Regions from separate parts of the Homo sapiens genome. Here region 2 is linked to region 1. A link means that fine-mapping ties the variant in region 1 to the expression of a gene that starts in the linked region. Tissue or cell type: whole blood. Region 1 holds a variant in brackets; the other region holds the start of a gene. All regions are shown on one strand. Distances are from middle to middle. Region 1 overlaps MIR4432HG (MIR4432 host gene). Region 2 holds the start of MIR4432HG (MIR4432 host gene).

What was found. PIP is the estimated chance that this variant, and not a neighbour inherited with it, causes the effect.
Region 2: it holds the start of MIR4432HG, and the variant in region 1 is the best candidate, but not a certain one, in a credible set for the expression of MIR4432HG in whole blood (INTERVAL, PIP 0.53).

Annotation. Positions count from the first base shown.
Region 1 is chr2:60,374,494-60,382,825 of GRCh38, forward strand. The region is part of intron 1 of MIR4432HG (MIR4432 host gene); the gene reads right to left. Among named protein-coding and RNA genes, the nearest start is that of MIR4432, 8.8 kb to the right of the region's middle. The variant G/C (reference allele first, on the strand shown) is at 4,503.
Region 2 is chr2:60,386,284-60,394,615 of GRCh38, forward strand. It overlaps MIR4432HG (MIR4432 host gene), which reads right to left and starts at 5,092. Exons shown (of 2, transcript NR_132992.1): 1 at 5,023-5,092. MIR4432 (microRNA 4432) reads right to left here and starts at 1,162; the gene lies at 1,079-1,162.

The sequences.
Region 1 (8,332 bases):
AAATTGATGACAGTCTTATATTTACAAACATTCTGCTTTATACAGCCACATTCATTAACCCAATTGAGTCTTGAACAGCCCCGTTAGGGAGACAGGCCAGATCAGAAAGGTTAGCCCCAGGTCCCACTTAGCAAACACCCACCCCCTCTAGCCTCTGTTCGGTGCTGTAACTTCAGTGTTCCACGTGAGTAAACTGAGGCACGGTGGTGGAGAGTAACTTTTCTCAGAATGAGGTATAGGATCTGGGCTTCCATTTCAGGAGTTACTGTTCAATTGTTAAGTGATTTTAAAAGATTCGATGTCTGTGGACTGCCTGTCCTTTCATATCTTGTGCTCTGAGTAATCAGCTCTACCTGGAAGAGAGAAACAGAAGCCTGGCACTCACAGAGGGGCAGGAGAGAGAATGAGTATGAAAGTTCACCCCTCTTCTTCTCCCCAAAGTGAAAACAGCTTGTCTTTGCCCCAAATGAAAAGAGTCAGACCTTGACACCTTAAATTACAGATAAGTTCCAAAACCAAAGAGGTAGCTCTAAACACTGACACCAATTTTCAGGGAGAAAGGCAGCCACCCCCGGGTCCCTCCTCCTAACTAACCATCCCTTATCAGTAGATCAGGGACCAGACATGGTCTTCCGGACCATGAAAGATCTGGAAAGACAGAGCCACATCAGAGTGCTGGCTTTGCACTAAATCCTCATGCTTCTATGTGGAATTCAGCAGGAAGAAGGGAAGCCCTTCTTATTTACTATAACAAAATAGTAAACACTTCCTCTAACACTGGGATAGGAAGGTTTCATCAATTCACCGTGGCAAGGGGTACAGATTATTGTTGTACTTTGACTCATTCCAATAAGCGAGTAGCCGAAGCTGACCCCTGACCCCTGTGGTTGGGGGTCATCCTCACTTCCCCACCTCTCATCCCACCATTACCCCAACACTCAGGACCAGCTGCACAGAGCCCCCACAGAATGAGAGGGAGGTGGGGAGGAAGAAACGACAAGGTTGGGGATAGCGAATACATGGGTTGGTGAGATGATCACCCTCAGATTCTAAAATAGGCCAAAATGTAAGAAACAATAGTAATTATACAGGCGATACATTAATTTATTTTCATTACACTATTTAAACAATATGGAAGTTTATTTAGTTAAAATCGGAGTTCGCTCTTCACTTCCTTTCCTACCATAACTGTGAATACCTCAGAGGGTGTCCTTTCAGATTTTACATCTGCATGACATGCAGATATATGCATGTAAACAATTTCGACCTAGATGGGTTTGAAAGTCCCTGCCCCCAAGATCATGGCTGGAAAAAAATGACAAGGGAACATTTCTAGAAAAGATAGAAAATGTCAGAGACCAGAGACACTGCTTCATCCCTAGTCATGGTGCCAAGGGACTTACTTTACATCAAATTCCCTGGAACCAGACTCTGTGTCAGAGATTGTGGTACAGAGCAATTTGGGAAACACTCAGGAACAACCCCTGTCAGGGAAAAGGGAAAGCAGGAGGAGGCAGGTGAGGAAGTTGAAGTGTGGTGCGGTTGTAACAGAAGCTTCCTTCTTCCCTTGGGGAGCTCTGGAGGTGGGTTGCCCTTCTGAGCTGTTCCAAGTTACAGCAAGGGAGCCCAGCTTTTCTATTCCTAAGTCAACTAATTGGCTGCAGGGTCCCCCGGAAGAATGGGAGTAAGATTGGGTAAGGCCACTGCCTTCTGCCAGGGCTGGTTCTAGAGAAAGACCAGCTGTGGACCATCAGCAGCTGATTCTCCCTGGGCAGCTAGCACAATGGATGCCTTGGTCTTGAAGCGGGGATCTGGGATGCCCACCACAGCCTCTACCACTGAATTCTCAGATGTTTCAAAACATTTTCTCAGAAAATAGCATCTCTTCCAGAAAGAATGAGGAGTAAATGGGGTAGGAAGGAAACTTGTTAAGTGAACAGATAAGAGGATGTCACCACCCCAGTGTTGACACAGCTCCTGGATCTGAATGGCAAGGCTAATACCAAATGTCCCCACAACTTCCTAGAATGTTGCACTATGCCATATCCTGGGCAACGCCAGCCTCAGAACCACAATTACAATCGCCAATAAGACAATAAGAAATGACTTTCCTTTCCCTCCTCTTTGGCCCAGGTTGTTGAGTTCTACTGGACAAATTCTACCTGTGTGTTTGGAAAGAAAAAAACAAAAACTTTCTTTTCTTTATAAACAATAATAGAGCAATGGAAAGCTTTCTTGGAAACCTCATTGTTGCATCAGGCACAAACCTCCCAAGGTGCATGCTCTCAGCCCTGTGCCACAGCCAGCAGCCACACAGACCCGGAGCTCCTGGTGCCCTGCTCACCTGGCTGTTTTCTTTCCTTCTGGACTCAGCAAGAATGCCCAGCTCCAGCCAAGAGCTGAGATCCCAAGTGTCTGGGGTCAACATTGGTAGTCTTTGGGTGACATGTTCAAAGTATCACATCGATTTTGTTTTCCTGCAAACAATCATAATGAACATCCACTGAAACCTTCCTAAACCAGGCCTAGGCCAGTGTGCTTTCCTAGGAAACCTTCCCAAGTTCCTTCACGGAGGATTTCTATCCAGCAAGAAGTGTTCAAAATTGTCCTTACTAATCTCAAAATAACACCATCATTATCAGTACTCATGGTGAAAATGGCCAATAAACGTACCTCAGGGTCTTGGGCTCCTGCTCTACAAAATGGGACGCTGCCTGTCTGCACTAAACTTTGCAGAGCAGGTCAGAGAATAGACAGTGCCTCCTGCAGCACTTGGGAACACAAACTTTGTAAACAAAAAGTAGAACTAACTGACCAACCTAGCAGCATGACCTTGTCCATCCATTCTAGAATATGAGAGATTTCAATTGTAATGGTGCAACTAGCACAGAATAAATTATTGTATGTGTTAACTCAAACACAGGGGCCTTTTTCCCGGTAGCTTCATATAAATACAAAACTGCTTTTGAGGCTCTAGGAAAAGATGGTCAGGGAAGGGTTGTTATTTAGGGGATTTATCTTTAAACACCTTTTTTCCACACTTTTTAACAAAGATTGGTAATGCTTGGCCAATTTTCCACTTGCCAGTGACTTACAGGAAAATACTACAGAAAAACAAGGACCAAAGGGTCCCAAACACCTCTGCACCTATTTCTCCTGCAGAAATCTTGCATTCAAAGTGGGGATACAGTATATGTCCTACATCACAGTAGCTAACACCTGCAGAGCACTGACCCGGACCAGGAACTATAATGAAGCCCTTCACATGATTAAGTCACTTCATCCTTACAATTACCCCAGTTTACTATTGTTATTCTCAATTTATAGATGAGAAAACTGAGGCCCAGAGTGCTAAGCGACCTGCAATCAGCAACCCAGGAGTCTGTGTACTTAATCATGATGCTATCCTGCTTCCAGAGTGGAAAAACCTGACAAGGAGTGCTTTTACTTTGAATCCTTTAGTTGTCTTTATTTTCCAAATTCTCTTTGAGACAGGTAGAACCAGAGCTGCCCAATCCATGAAAACACTGGACCTCCATGACTTAACTGAGTCACAAAATTAATCAGTGATGGAACACAGAATGGAACCTAATCCAACACGTAGCACAGATCCTTACAGTTCAGCCAAGCAGACAGAAAACTCAGACTGAAGACAGACGTCTGCTCCTGATCAGAAGGCAAGCAGACCCACATGCTGGACAAGGGTGAGAGGTGATTGCTAAGCTCAGCCAACAGTAGCCCTAAAGCATATCACATCCTCCCTCTATTTCATCCTGGGCAAGGGTTTGAACCTGTCTGGGCCTCCTTCTAGGAGCAATGACAGGAGTCAATACATTTCAAAAACAAAACAATAATGGACATTTGCACTATCCTTAATCATTTCCAAAACATTCCAAATGCATCATCTCATTTAGTTCTTCTAACAGCCCTGTGAAGAAAGTTTTATGGTATTCATTTTAGAGAGATAGAAACTGAGGCTCACAAAAGTTCTGATTGATCCAGACTCACATAGCTCAGTCTTCATGCTTGATCCCACGCTGTCTCCACTATGTCCTTTCAACTGTTTTCTGGTTCAAGATCCAGCGGTTGAAGGTCAAGTTCAAAGAGAAGGCTGGGGAAATCTAGACCTAGACCATCAAACCAGAAACTGCTCATCCCCAGTACTTCAAATATATTATTACCAAATGCAAGAGACTGTTGGTTTTTATTATTTAACCAAACAGGATCTGTTCCATGCACATTCCCACTGCTAATCAGACATGGTGAATCACAAAAAGACATTGTTTTCCACGTTTTTATCTGTTTGCCTGATTCCTGGCCCACTGGTTAAAACTCTGAGAGACCCTAAGATGCCAGTGGTCAACTTGTGCAATCCAAGTATTATGTGATCAAAACACTGAACTGCCCTAATACAGTGTTTTTGTTTGATTTTTTTACTAAAACACCACTGACCCCCAAAAGATAATGGCTTTTTCTTTTTTTTTTTTTCGAGATGTCACCCA[G/C]GCTGGAGTGCAGTGGCGCGATCTCGGCTCACTGCAACCTCCATCTCCTGGGTTCAAGCAATTCTCCTGCCTCAGCCTCCTAAGTAGCTGGGATTACAGGCGCCTGCCACCACATCCGGCAAATTTTTGTATTTTTAGTAGAGATGGGGTTTCATCATGTTGGCCAGGCTGGTCTCAAACTCCTGACCTCAAGTGATCTGCCTGCCTCGGCCTCCCAAAGTGCTAGGATTTTACAGGCGTGAGCCACCGTGCCAATATATTTTATGTTAGTAAGTCATTTATTTCTCCCAACAACCCTATGAGATAGTCACTATTGTTATTTTATTGTTTATCTTACAGATAAAAAAAATTAAGACACAGAAAGGCTCAGGGACCTGCTTATCAGTGTCAGAGCCATGATTCAGGTACGGGCATCTGATTCAGGACTCTGCTCCTAACTGCGGACTCCAGAGAGCTTAGTAAGAACTTCACAAGCAGCAGTTCTCTAGGATTTGACTGGAGGGTTTGAGGATAGGAGTTTTGTCGTTTTGTAGGGTTAATTTTTTTTTTTTTTTTAACAAGGTCTCACTCTGTCGCCCAGGCTTGAGTGCAGTGGCTCAATCTCGGCTCACTACAACTTCTGCCTCCCAGGCCCAAGCAATCCTCCCACATCAGCTTCCCAAGTAGCTAAGACAGCGGGGACCACAGGCGTGCACCACCACACCTGGCTAATTTGTGTATTTTTTGTAGAAACAGGGTCTCACCATGTTGCCCAGGCTGGTCTCAAACTCCTGACCTCAAGAGATCCTCCAGCCTCAGCCCCTCAAAGTGCTGGGATTATAGGCATGAGCCACTGCACCCAGCCTTGTGAGGTTAATGTTTTAAGTTTCACTTTCCTTTTATCAATGAAGTTTATCACCATATCTTATCACTACAGTTTTATTCTTTTGGCTCATAAAGAGACTCCTCCCTCTCATTAAAATACAAATCTTGGAAGGGCAATGTCTAGAACCATTATCAGTAAATATCTTAGTTCTCAAGTAACGAATTAGCAGAAAATGGAAATGAGCCTCTGTAGAGACTTGGCAATACCCAAAATGACAAAATGAAGGGAAAGGATAGGGAGATGGAAGGTTCCCAAAACCAAATGCCACCTTTCCTCTCTCCCCTAGCTCTTTATGGCACAGTGCACACCTGTATTAATGACCACTCTGCTTACCAAACAGAAATCTATGGAAGACATAAAGATGGATGGGTTAGTCCGGAGATGCACAGCCTGGCTCTCAACTCCTCCAGGCCAGGCCAGCTGCTGTTCTCCTCACATTTTGGCCCCTACAAGATTACCCCTACTTCTGATATAAAGACATGTCATCGTGTCTCAAGCGGCAGCTCTCCCAATCTTAGCGAGGCTCAATCTTGCAACCTTTCCCTTAGCCAGACCCAGCCTCCCAGAGACTCTGAGAGAGGACCCCCACTTCTCCCTCAGCAGCCACTGCCATTTACCCAATACTTATTTCCTACTTCTTGGTAGTTTATTGTATCAGGCTATCTTACTTCCATCTGTCTGAGTCAGTCAAGTACTATTTTGAAGAAGGCAAAGTAGTAATTCATATATCAGTAGGTAGGTAAACATGGAAATCACACCAACAACAAAGCCAGAAGCAATAATGATAACAGTAACCACAACAGTGACCATGTGTGGAATGCTCCTGTATGCCCTGTGCTTTACATAGCTGATTTCATGTCACTCTCTCAACACACCTTCGAGGTAAGTATGCTTTACAGATGGGGAACTGAGGCTCGGGAATTTAAGTAACATGCCCACCTCAACCAGAAAGTACTAAGGCCCAGCTCCATCTGTGGGGCTGTCTTTCTGCAAAGTTCAGGCTTTTAATCCACTAGACTCTAGCCTAGACTCTTTAATCCACTCTACAACCAGGCAGGCTTTGGTTAAAGGAATTGATGTATTTCTTTGTTTTCCCCAGAATACTTGCTAAATTGATGTACTGCTATTGTTAAGAGTTCAGTCAACTACAAAGATTGAAAGGAGAATCCTCACAAGGCTTCCCTCATTTCAAACACTAGCTGCAAGTTTGGGGGTATCCATGCCATCCTCATGACACATCAGCTGGCTACTAATTTGGGAGATTCACACAAATACCCTCAGGTTTGATAATTCACTAGAATGATTCAGAGAACTCTGGAAGGCGCTATGCTTGTGATTTTATTATAGGAAAAGGATACACATTTAAATCTGCAAAGAGAAGAGACACGTAGGGCGGAATCCAGGAGGGGTCTAAAGGCAAAGCTTCTGAGTTTCCTCTCCCCATAGAGTCGTGGATGGTGTTGCCTCCTCCTGGCCACAGTGTGAGACAATGCACACAGAGTATTGTGAACAAAGGATGCTCACCCAAGCCTTTAGTGTCCAGAGTTTTCCTTGGGGCTTAGTCACATAATGTCCACATGGTTGACTTTCAGTCTCCAGCCCTCAGTGGAGGCTCAGGCCAATACCTTATGCCTCTAGTTCCCATGGAGGTTAGAACTGATATGGTGTGTCCCAAAGCCCCCATTATGAAACACACTATTGGACTGTCCAGTTGCCAAAGCCCCCAGACAAACAAAGACATCGGGCTGGACACTTCAGGGGCCTAGAGATTGCCTCCCAGGAGCCAAGGGCAAAGGCCAGACCCCTCTTTTGGTCAATTCTTCAGTACACAACTGTATATATAACACCAAAGTGCCACGACACAGATAAAAATAGAAAAAGATAGACAGAGGAGCAAGAGAATTAGAGAGAGAAAAAGAGATAATATCCACAATTTGAATTTTAGAGTGGAAATAAACTTCAAAAGAGCACGTGCCCTAGTACCTGGGTTCAAGCACATAACATATGAGACTGTACTGAGAGGGTCTAGAAAGGTTGTCCAAGATCCCATAGAGGTAGACTGGAAAAAAGTCTGTGATCCTGATTTTCGTTTTGTTTTTGTTTTTGTTTTTGTTTTTGTTTTTGTTTTTTGAGATGGAGTCTCTGTCGCCCAGGCTGGAGTGCAGTGGTGCAATCTCAGCTCACTGCAACCTCCGCCTCCCAGGTTCAAGCAATTCTCCCGCCTCAGCACCCCCTAGTAGCTGGGATTACAGGCGCACGCCGCCACGCCTATTTTTTGTATTTTTAGTAGAGAGGGGGTTTCACCATGTTTGCCAAGCTGGTCTCGAACTCCTGACCTCAGATGATCCACCCGCCTTTGCCTCCCAAAGTGCTAGGATTACAGACCTGAGCCACCGCACCCAACCTGATCCTTGATTTCTACTAAAAAAATCCATTCCCCTCTATCGTGATGCCACATATTCTCCCCTCCAAATCTCACTTGCCTATCCAAAATGTCGCATCAGTAGCCTGGGGTTTGCTGACACACACATCTCTCAATACACAGCATGTTCAATAGGCCCTCCTTTCCTGTGCCCCCTTTGAAGATTCCAGGCAGGATCTTATAGTGAGTGGTCTACTATCATCCAGTTTCTCAACTACTGAAGCCTGCGGGCTCACATCAAGAGCTCTGGGGATCCAATCCACTCCAGAGCATCTGGGGAAAAGCCACCTGCTCCTGGATTCTAGGTGTGGTTCCAGAAGGGACCACCATCTCTGCTAAGACACACACCATCCCTGCCAGGAGCATCTGTGCAGGGCCAGGACAACACCATGACAAGAGGAAGACTCAAGTCCTTACTCTGCCCCAACAAGCTCTTCCAGGTCTCCGGGTTTCCCTTTTATTCTTTGTGAAATGAAAGGCTTAGCTTAGAATCTTGATGCTCCAAGTGGGGTCCAATGACCAGCACAGGGCATTACCAGGGTG
Region 2 (8,332 bases), 12 kb after region 1:
GACCTCTCTTTACTCATCTTTACAATGGGGATAGTGAAAGAACCTGGCTCCTCAGACTGTTTTAAGAATTAAGTGTGATAATGTATCAAAAGCATTCAGCACCATACCAGGCACGGTTGGGATTGTCATCATTATTACTGTGGCCAGTAGTATTAGGAAGTGCTCTGAAAATTGTACTCTGTGAAATAAGTCAGGATCTGACATTGTAAAATCAAAAAGGGCATTCTCCCTGGGAAATAGCTAGCAGCTCCTAGTGGCAAATTCCAGACTTGGGTCTATTTTTTGCCTTTATATACTTTCTCATTTATGTTTTGATTTATGAAAACGCATCCATCATTTTCTAAGGAAAGCCTCCAGGCACATGAACAAAAATGATAAAAATGCACAACAGAAACAAATAAAACCATTCGGCATGGCTAACAAGTCAGGCATTTGGCCCCAGAGGGGTAGATAAATCTAGAGCTGGGCTCAGCACTGGGACCCAAAGGTCAACAGGCTGGGACTTTGCTGAAGAAATAAAAGAAAGGGGATTCTGGAGCTTCAGCTAACAGCCTACCTCAGATCTTCTGAGAGCCTAGGAGTGAATCTTCCAGAGGCAGCCCCCGAAAGGGTCTCCAAGAGGCCAGTCCAGAAACCTGTGCAGAGCTGCCCTCTCTGCTCCTTCACTAGTCAGTGGGAGAACCAGCAGACTTCTCCAGCCACGCCAGGCACCCCGTTTACCCCCGTGAGGGAGAGGCCATCTTGGGGAAAGACACTCAGTTAAGAGAACTGGGGCTCCCTAGGAAACCTGTCAGTCATCCTTCTGTCTTTATCCCCTTACTCCAGAGGCATTGCTATGAGGGGACCCCCTACCCAAAGAATTTGCTTCAAAACTCAGCATTTCTAGCTTCCAATACAGATACCTCATTTTTGCTCGAGGCTGGGAACATGTGAGAGGAAAAGTGAGCAGGAATCCCAGCAGAATCAGGGAGGGATCCATAGGGGGTGAGATGGGTTAGGGCCCTCACTAGCAGAGCACAGGTGTCTTTGTAGAACCATGCTAGCCCACAATGGTTAACAGGGTCCATGATGGTTAACAAGGCATCTTGCAGAGTCTTTCCAAGGTGACATTCTAGGGGATGACACTCTAGAGGTGTCGCATTGGAACGGCTCTGCAAGATGCCTTTCTGCCCAGAGTCTGAGGGGATTCTCAGTTATAGACTGTTCTGGCCATAATCCACCAAACAAGGGGGTAATTCATAGGCTGCAAACAGGCCAAAAAGGTGGCCCAGTGTGAACATTAGGGCCCCACATGCCCAGTAGGGCTGCCCAAAACTAGATAACACCTGGCAGAGCCAATCAGATCTTCTATTGGGACATCTGACTGAGACATGGGGAGCTGTCGTCAAAGAGTAATGGTACATGTGACAGAACAGAAAAGAGTAGCCAGCACTCCAACTCCCCAACACGAGAGTGGACAAAAATGGACTTACATTTGTGGGGCAAAGCCCCTGTTAATAACAAGTATTCATAATAACAGTGTCCATGGAGCCACAGTTGACAACAATACTCATTGAGCATAACTTTTTGCCTGGCACTGTTAGGTCCTTGTGCACAGGATCTCACCGAAACTTGACAAGGAACCCCACATGGTCAGTGCTATTATTGTCACCACTGTATAGATGGTAGGAAACTGAGGCTAGAGAGGTGACACAGTGGTAAAGGGCAGAGTTGCAATGTGAACCCAGCAGTTTGATTATGGAACATGGGGTTTTATTTACTAGATTACACAAACTCCTGTCAAATCCTATATGGCCATGGACGATACTCCAGTTCTCGGTGAAGCCCAGCTGTGACTGCTGAGAAGATTTACTGTTCTTCCCCACCTCCCAGGGTGTCCTTCCAATAATCCTCCATCACCTAAAGCAATGGGATTACGCCATAGTCCCCTTAAACTGCAAGCATCTAACTAATACAGGGACACAAGTGTTCCAGAGAAGTGGCTAGTAACAGCAAAGAATGACAGACCCTCCAAATGAGGTTTGGTGGCTCCCTTTTACCCTTCTGAATCTTAAAGGAAGAAACACAAGCTGAGACATTCTGGACAGGTGGCTGGTGCTGGTGAAGTTGACCTCTTCATTTCCATCTTCAGGTCATTACAAGGGCCTTCCCTGAAGCCAACTAAATCCTTGGACAGAGAGGACCTGAGGCTGGTATTGCCCTGTGCTGCACAGTAGACAGCTCTTCTCCTGAGGAAGGGCTGCTGGCAAGGAGGGGCCAGTGACCCAGACCCAGTTAGTCAGACCCTCCCTAGTACAGTCTGCTGATGTCATTGAAGAAGGCCATGTCCTCTCATCTCAGCTGCTGGCCTATGAGCCTGGGGCTGCCTGCCTCATGGAAAGTGATAGGGGAGAGGGAGATAGAACAATCTGGGCCAGGCGCGGTGACTCACGCCTGTAATCCCAGCACTTTGAGAAGCTGAGGCAGATGGATCACTTGAGGTCATGAGTTCGAGACCAGCCTGACCAACATGGTGAAACCCCGTCTCTACTACAAATACCAAAATTTGCCGGGCATGGTGGCGCATGCCTGTAATCCAGCTACTAGGGAGGCTGAGGCAGGAGAATCACTTGAACCTGGGAGTCAGAAGTTGCAATGAGCTGAGATCGTGCCACTACACTCCAGCCTGGGCCACAGAATGAGACTCCATCTCAAAAAGAAAAGAAAAGAAGAGGAAAGGAGAAGAGAGGAGAGGAGAGAAGAGAGAAGAGAGGAAAGGAAAGGAAAGGAAAGGAAAGGAAAGGAAAGGAAAGGAAAGGAAAGGAAAGGAAAGGAAAGGAAAGGAAAGGAAAGGAAAGGAAAGGAAAGGAAAGGAAAGGAAAGGAAAGGAAAGGAAAGGAAAGGAAAGGAAAGGAAAGGAAAGGAAAGGAAACGAAACGAAAGGAAAGGAAAGGGGAGAGCTGTGGTGGCCCTCGTGCAGGACAGGAGATGAGGCAGTTGTGTGGCCAACCTGTAAAAGGAAAACACTTCCCACCTACTGCAAGGTGACTCAAGGTGGAGGTGCCAAAATTAGGGGAAAAGGCTTCCAGCCAAGCACAGAGGAAGGGTATGAAAGAACTTTCTAATAGCCTCAAAGCAAGATCACATGAAGATTCTGCAAGACTGCACGACATTTTTCTTTTTTCTTTTTTCTTTTTTTTTTTTTTTTGGAGACAGGGCCTCACTCTGTCACACAGACTGGAGTACAGTGGCACAATCACAGCTCCCTACAGCCTCAACCTCCCAGCCTCAAGCAATCCTGCCAGCTCAGCCTCCCAAGCAGCTAGGACCACAATGTATGTGCCATTATGCCTAATTTTTCTATTTCTTTTAGAGTCAGAGTGTCCCCACATTGCCCAGGCCAGTCTGGAACTCCTAATCTCAAGTGATCCACCCACCTTGGCCTCCCAAAGTGCTGGGATTACAGGTGTGAGCCACATAGCCCAGCCACAACATTTTTCCAGAAGACAAATGGACTAACCTCATATTGATCCTGGGACTATGAAAATAGGGCAGCCGGCAAGACTTGAGCCAAATATATAGACTCTACTTCATAAATGAAAACCTCCAAAAAGTCCAAATTTAGTATTTTTCATGCTCATGCAAAGGACAAGCTTCCTCCTCCATTGAAAGGAAAGGAAGGGAGAAGATTTACTACAGGGTGGCCAGAGCTTTTCCCTGGAATGGCCCAAAGTTGCTTCTCTGTCCCCAGACAACTTGGGTTTGAGCTCTAGGGGACCATATATAATATTTTCTAGGTCCCTGTGAGTACACCCTTGATGTACTGGAGACGGGAGGTCAGATTTGATTTACATTCACAGGCAAAATTGAAGTTAGAACTCACCCCAACTCAGCGGAAAGGAGACTGCGGGACAGTGAGGACTCAAGGAGTAACTGTGAGGCAGCTTAAGTGAACTTCACTCAGGGCACAGTAGGTTTTCTTGTTCTAAGTAAATATCTTAACAGTTTCCAGTTTTACAAATTTAAAAACAGCTAAAAATATGCACACTTATATTTTCTAGTTTTTGCAGATGATGCTGAGGCAAGTTAAGAGGGAACATGCTAACCACCAAAACCATCCTCATTTTCATGACTAGGTGGACAGGGAGGAACCGAGGCTTGTACTGCCCTGTGTTGCATAGTAGATAGCTCCTCTCCTGAGGCAGGGCTGCTAATGACCCAGGCCCAGTTAGCCAGACCCTCCCTGGTATAGTCTGCTGATGTCATTGAAAAAGGACATGACTTCTTATCTCAGCTGCTGGCCTGTGAGCTGGGGCTTCCTGCCTCACGGAAGGTGAGAGAGGGAGAGGGAGACAGAACCCTGGCAACCTGGGACGGGCACAGTGGCTCACACCTGTAATCCCAGCACTTTGGGAAGCCAAGGTGGGTGGATCACCTGAGGTCAGGAGTTCAAGACCAGCCGGGCCAACATGGTGAAACCCCGTCTCTGCTAAAAATACAAAAATTAGCCGGGCATAGTGGCACACGCCTGTAATCCAGCTACTTGGGAGGCTGAGGCAGGAAAATCCCATGAACCCAGGAGGCAGAGGTTGCAGTGAGCCAAGATTGCACCACTGAACTGGGAAACAGAGCGAGACTCCGTCTCAAAAAAAAAAAAAACCCTGACAACCTGGTGCCAACCCCTGGATCCAGCTGTTCCTGTATCCCATATTCCTCTGCACTTCCCAGTTACATGAGCCAATTATTCCCTTTTTGTTTATTATTAGTTTGAGTGTCTGTCACTTGTAACTTAAATAAGCCTGCCTACAAATTCTAGCCAAGGCATTCATCTTCTGGCAAGCCTCTATAAAGAACCTGTAGGTGCTGCTTTTGAACACGAAACTCCCTGCTTCATTTGATCACTGACTACCAGAGAATGCAAACTCTTGGACAACATGAGCACAGCAAGTATTTTATCCTCAGTCCCTCCCCTTCCTCTGACTGTCAGCCTTCAAACCCAATGCCAATCCCATCCCCACTTCCCCCTGACTCCACCATCATTACCATTGTCTCCCTTCTTCGTCTTTGTCAAAGTACCTCACCAGTGAAAGAAAAGTGACCTCTGCTTCAAAAATGAATAACTGCCACGAATGCGGAGAGCCACAGCAAAGGAAACCACGCCTCCTTTGATAAATACCATGCAGCTGCTGCTTGGTGATGATGGTCTCGCCCTGGTGGAGCATTCTAGGGTCAGATGTTTACAGAGAAAAGGCAGGCAGGTGCCAGTGCTTGAACATCAGGCCAAATCCCAGGTTTCCCCAGCCGTCACTCATTCTCATGCACAAAGTAGAGGCCCTGCAATTGCTTCCTAAGACTCAGTTTCCTTATAGGTAAGCTGGAAAACATTTAGTATTAACAAGCACCAGAGCTATGTCAAAGGAGAATCATCCAAAACATTGCTGAGCCTTGACGAAGATGAACAGCACTCAGGGGAAGAATTCTAGGTGGATCTTTGGGTAATAGGAACCCTGAAAACAGCAATGATCCAGTAGGTGACATGTAGGGCGTGCCCCTCGCCTTCCTGGACTGGTGCTCAGCATTCCACTTGTATGATCTCATTTAATCCCCACAACACACCCATGCGGTGGGAAATAATTATCATCTCCACTTTACAGAGGAGGCTCCTGAGTCTTCAAGAGAATGTGAGACTTGTCCACAGTCACTCAGTAGTGCAGCCACAGTGACCTTGAAGTCAGGCCCGGTGTCTGGCCTTTGTGACCATGCCATCCCAGGGATGTAAAAGAACTCAACAGTTGCTCAGAATACCCCTTTTACCATCTCAACGACATGGGCAATCAAGGACTGCCTTGCTTCCTGCCGGGTTCCTGAGTGAATCAGTGGGCATGACTTTGAGAAACAGAAAGCTCTAAAAATCTTGGGTGTTATTACTGTCTAGGCAGTGCAGTCAGAGATGATGTTGATGGTGGTAGCCTGTTTTACTCATCTCACTCTCAGAGGATGCTAATCACATGGGTGGGAAATTTCATTAAACAACTGTCTCCTGGAGGCAGATGTTCATCCCAGAGCAGATTGGCATTCAGTCCCTTCCCCCCAGCTGGCCTGAAGAGCACTGGCAACGCAGGCCAGTGCTCCAGAGGTGCTGGGATGGAAGGTCCTGAGGTTAATCCTCTTCCAGCATTCACTATCCATGCACCCTCTAAGTTTCGCTTTCTCATCTGTGAATTTTCTCATCTGAGGAAGGGCTGCCGGCAGGAAGGGGCCAGTGATCCAAGCCCAGTTAGCCAAATCCTCCCGGTACAGTCTGCTGAAGTCATTGAAAAACCCCATGTCTTCTCATCTCAGCTGCTGGCCTGTGAGCCTGGGGCTGCCTGCCTCGTGGAAAGTGAGAGAGAGAGAGAGAGAGAGAGAGATAGAACTTTGGCAACCTGGGTTGGGCTAGGTTATAATAATACCTACTGTAGGTTATAATAATACCTGACTGTGAACTGGGAGCCATAATAATACCTACTATGGGTTTTCTAGGAGGTGAGAAGTTTGTCTTCTACTTTTTTTTGAAACTACAAAATACTTTAGACATCCAAAATGTAAGTATTAATATATAACCCACCAGCAGCTTAAGAGATAAAATGTTGTAACTGATGCACTCCTGCCCCAGTTCCATTCCTCTCCTTTCCTTACCAGAGGCAACCATTCCCCCAAGTCTGATATAGATCAAGACTTGGAAAACTTTCTGAAAAGGGCCAGATGGTAAGTAGTTGCACCTTTGCAGGCCACACGGTCTGTGGCAAGTATTCAACCCTGTCCTTGGAGTACAAAGGCAGCCATAGTTGATAAGTGAAAGAACAAGTGTGGTGGTGTTCCAGCAAATTTTATTTATGCACACTGGAATTTGAATTTCATATAATTTTCAGGTGTCACCAAAGAGTGTCCTTCTTTTGATTTTTTTTCAACTATTTAAAATTGTAAAACCCATTCTTAGCTCACAAGCCACGCAAAAGCAGGTGGTGGGCTGGACTTGGCCATGGGCATAATTTGCCAACCTTGGTATATATCATTCCCATGCATATTTTAATACTGAAACATAATATGTGTATATCCATATACAGTATTGTTTAGTGGGTCTTAAAATTTCATATAAATGGTATTATATGGTACTTTCACTTCTACAGCTGATCACTCTTTTTCAACATCAAATTTGCTGAGATTTAGGTGAGTTATTACATGTAACTTCAGTTAATTCATCTTAACTGCTGTATAGGAACTCACTATATGACTTTACCACAACTTATATGTAGGACTATTTATAGGATTTTACTATATGAATTCACTGCAACTTATTTATCCCTTCTCCTCTCAGTGGGCATTCAAGTTGTTCTACAGTTTTACAAATAAGGCTGCAAGAAGCACCTTCTGCATGTCTCCTTGTGCATGTGCACAAAAGCTGCTGTAGGATTGCTCTTCCTAGTAGAATTTCATGGTCACAGGAATGTTTGCTGATCACATAAAGCCAGGAAGGAAAGGGCTCATACCCAGCACCTTGTGTATCAATCACTGGCAGCTCCTGTTCCTCTGGAGCCCCCTCAAGCACCGGACAGAGGAATGAGCACATGTAAGTGCTTAATACACACTTTTTCACTTAATTCATAAAGACAGGGGGGCAGGGGGCAGGGGCAAAGGGAGGGAGAGCATTAGGACAAATACCTAATGCATGTGGGGCTTAAAAACTAGATGACAGGTTGGTACGTACAGCAAACCACCATGGTACGTGTATACCTATGTAAAAAACCTGCACGTTCTGCACATGTATCCCAGAAATTAAAGTAAAATTTAACAACTAAATAATAAAAATTAAAAATTAAAAAAGACCATCATGGAAAAAAATCTGTGGGACAAACAGTGGGACCTGTGAGTGATCAGGGAGAGAAAAACTCAGTTAGATGAAAATCTCCAAGAATGGCTTTTTAAAAAAGCAACATAGTTGAAGTTGGGAGGGATGGATGGAAAACAAATTCTTCTGATGAAGGCACTGACCTAAGTGGGCTCCGAGGTGGAAATGAACATGCCATGTGCAAGGAAATCCAGGAGACCAAGTAGGCTGGAACATTTGCAAAGTTCTTTTTGCAGGCATTGAATGCCAGGCAGGGGGCATGGGGCTTGACTTGCTGGTCAGTGGGAGCCCAGGAAAGGCCAGCCTAGGATGGCCAGGGCTACCCACTGAGTATGTTAACTCAGCTGGTCCTGTGTGGTGGAAGCTTGGGAGCAGAGCCTGAAATCACACACACCGTGAAAATAGTATGTTGGTGTTGTGGCTCTTCCAAGGCTGAGCCAAGCCTGATACAGCTTGGCCTTTTTT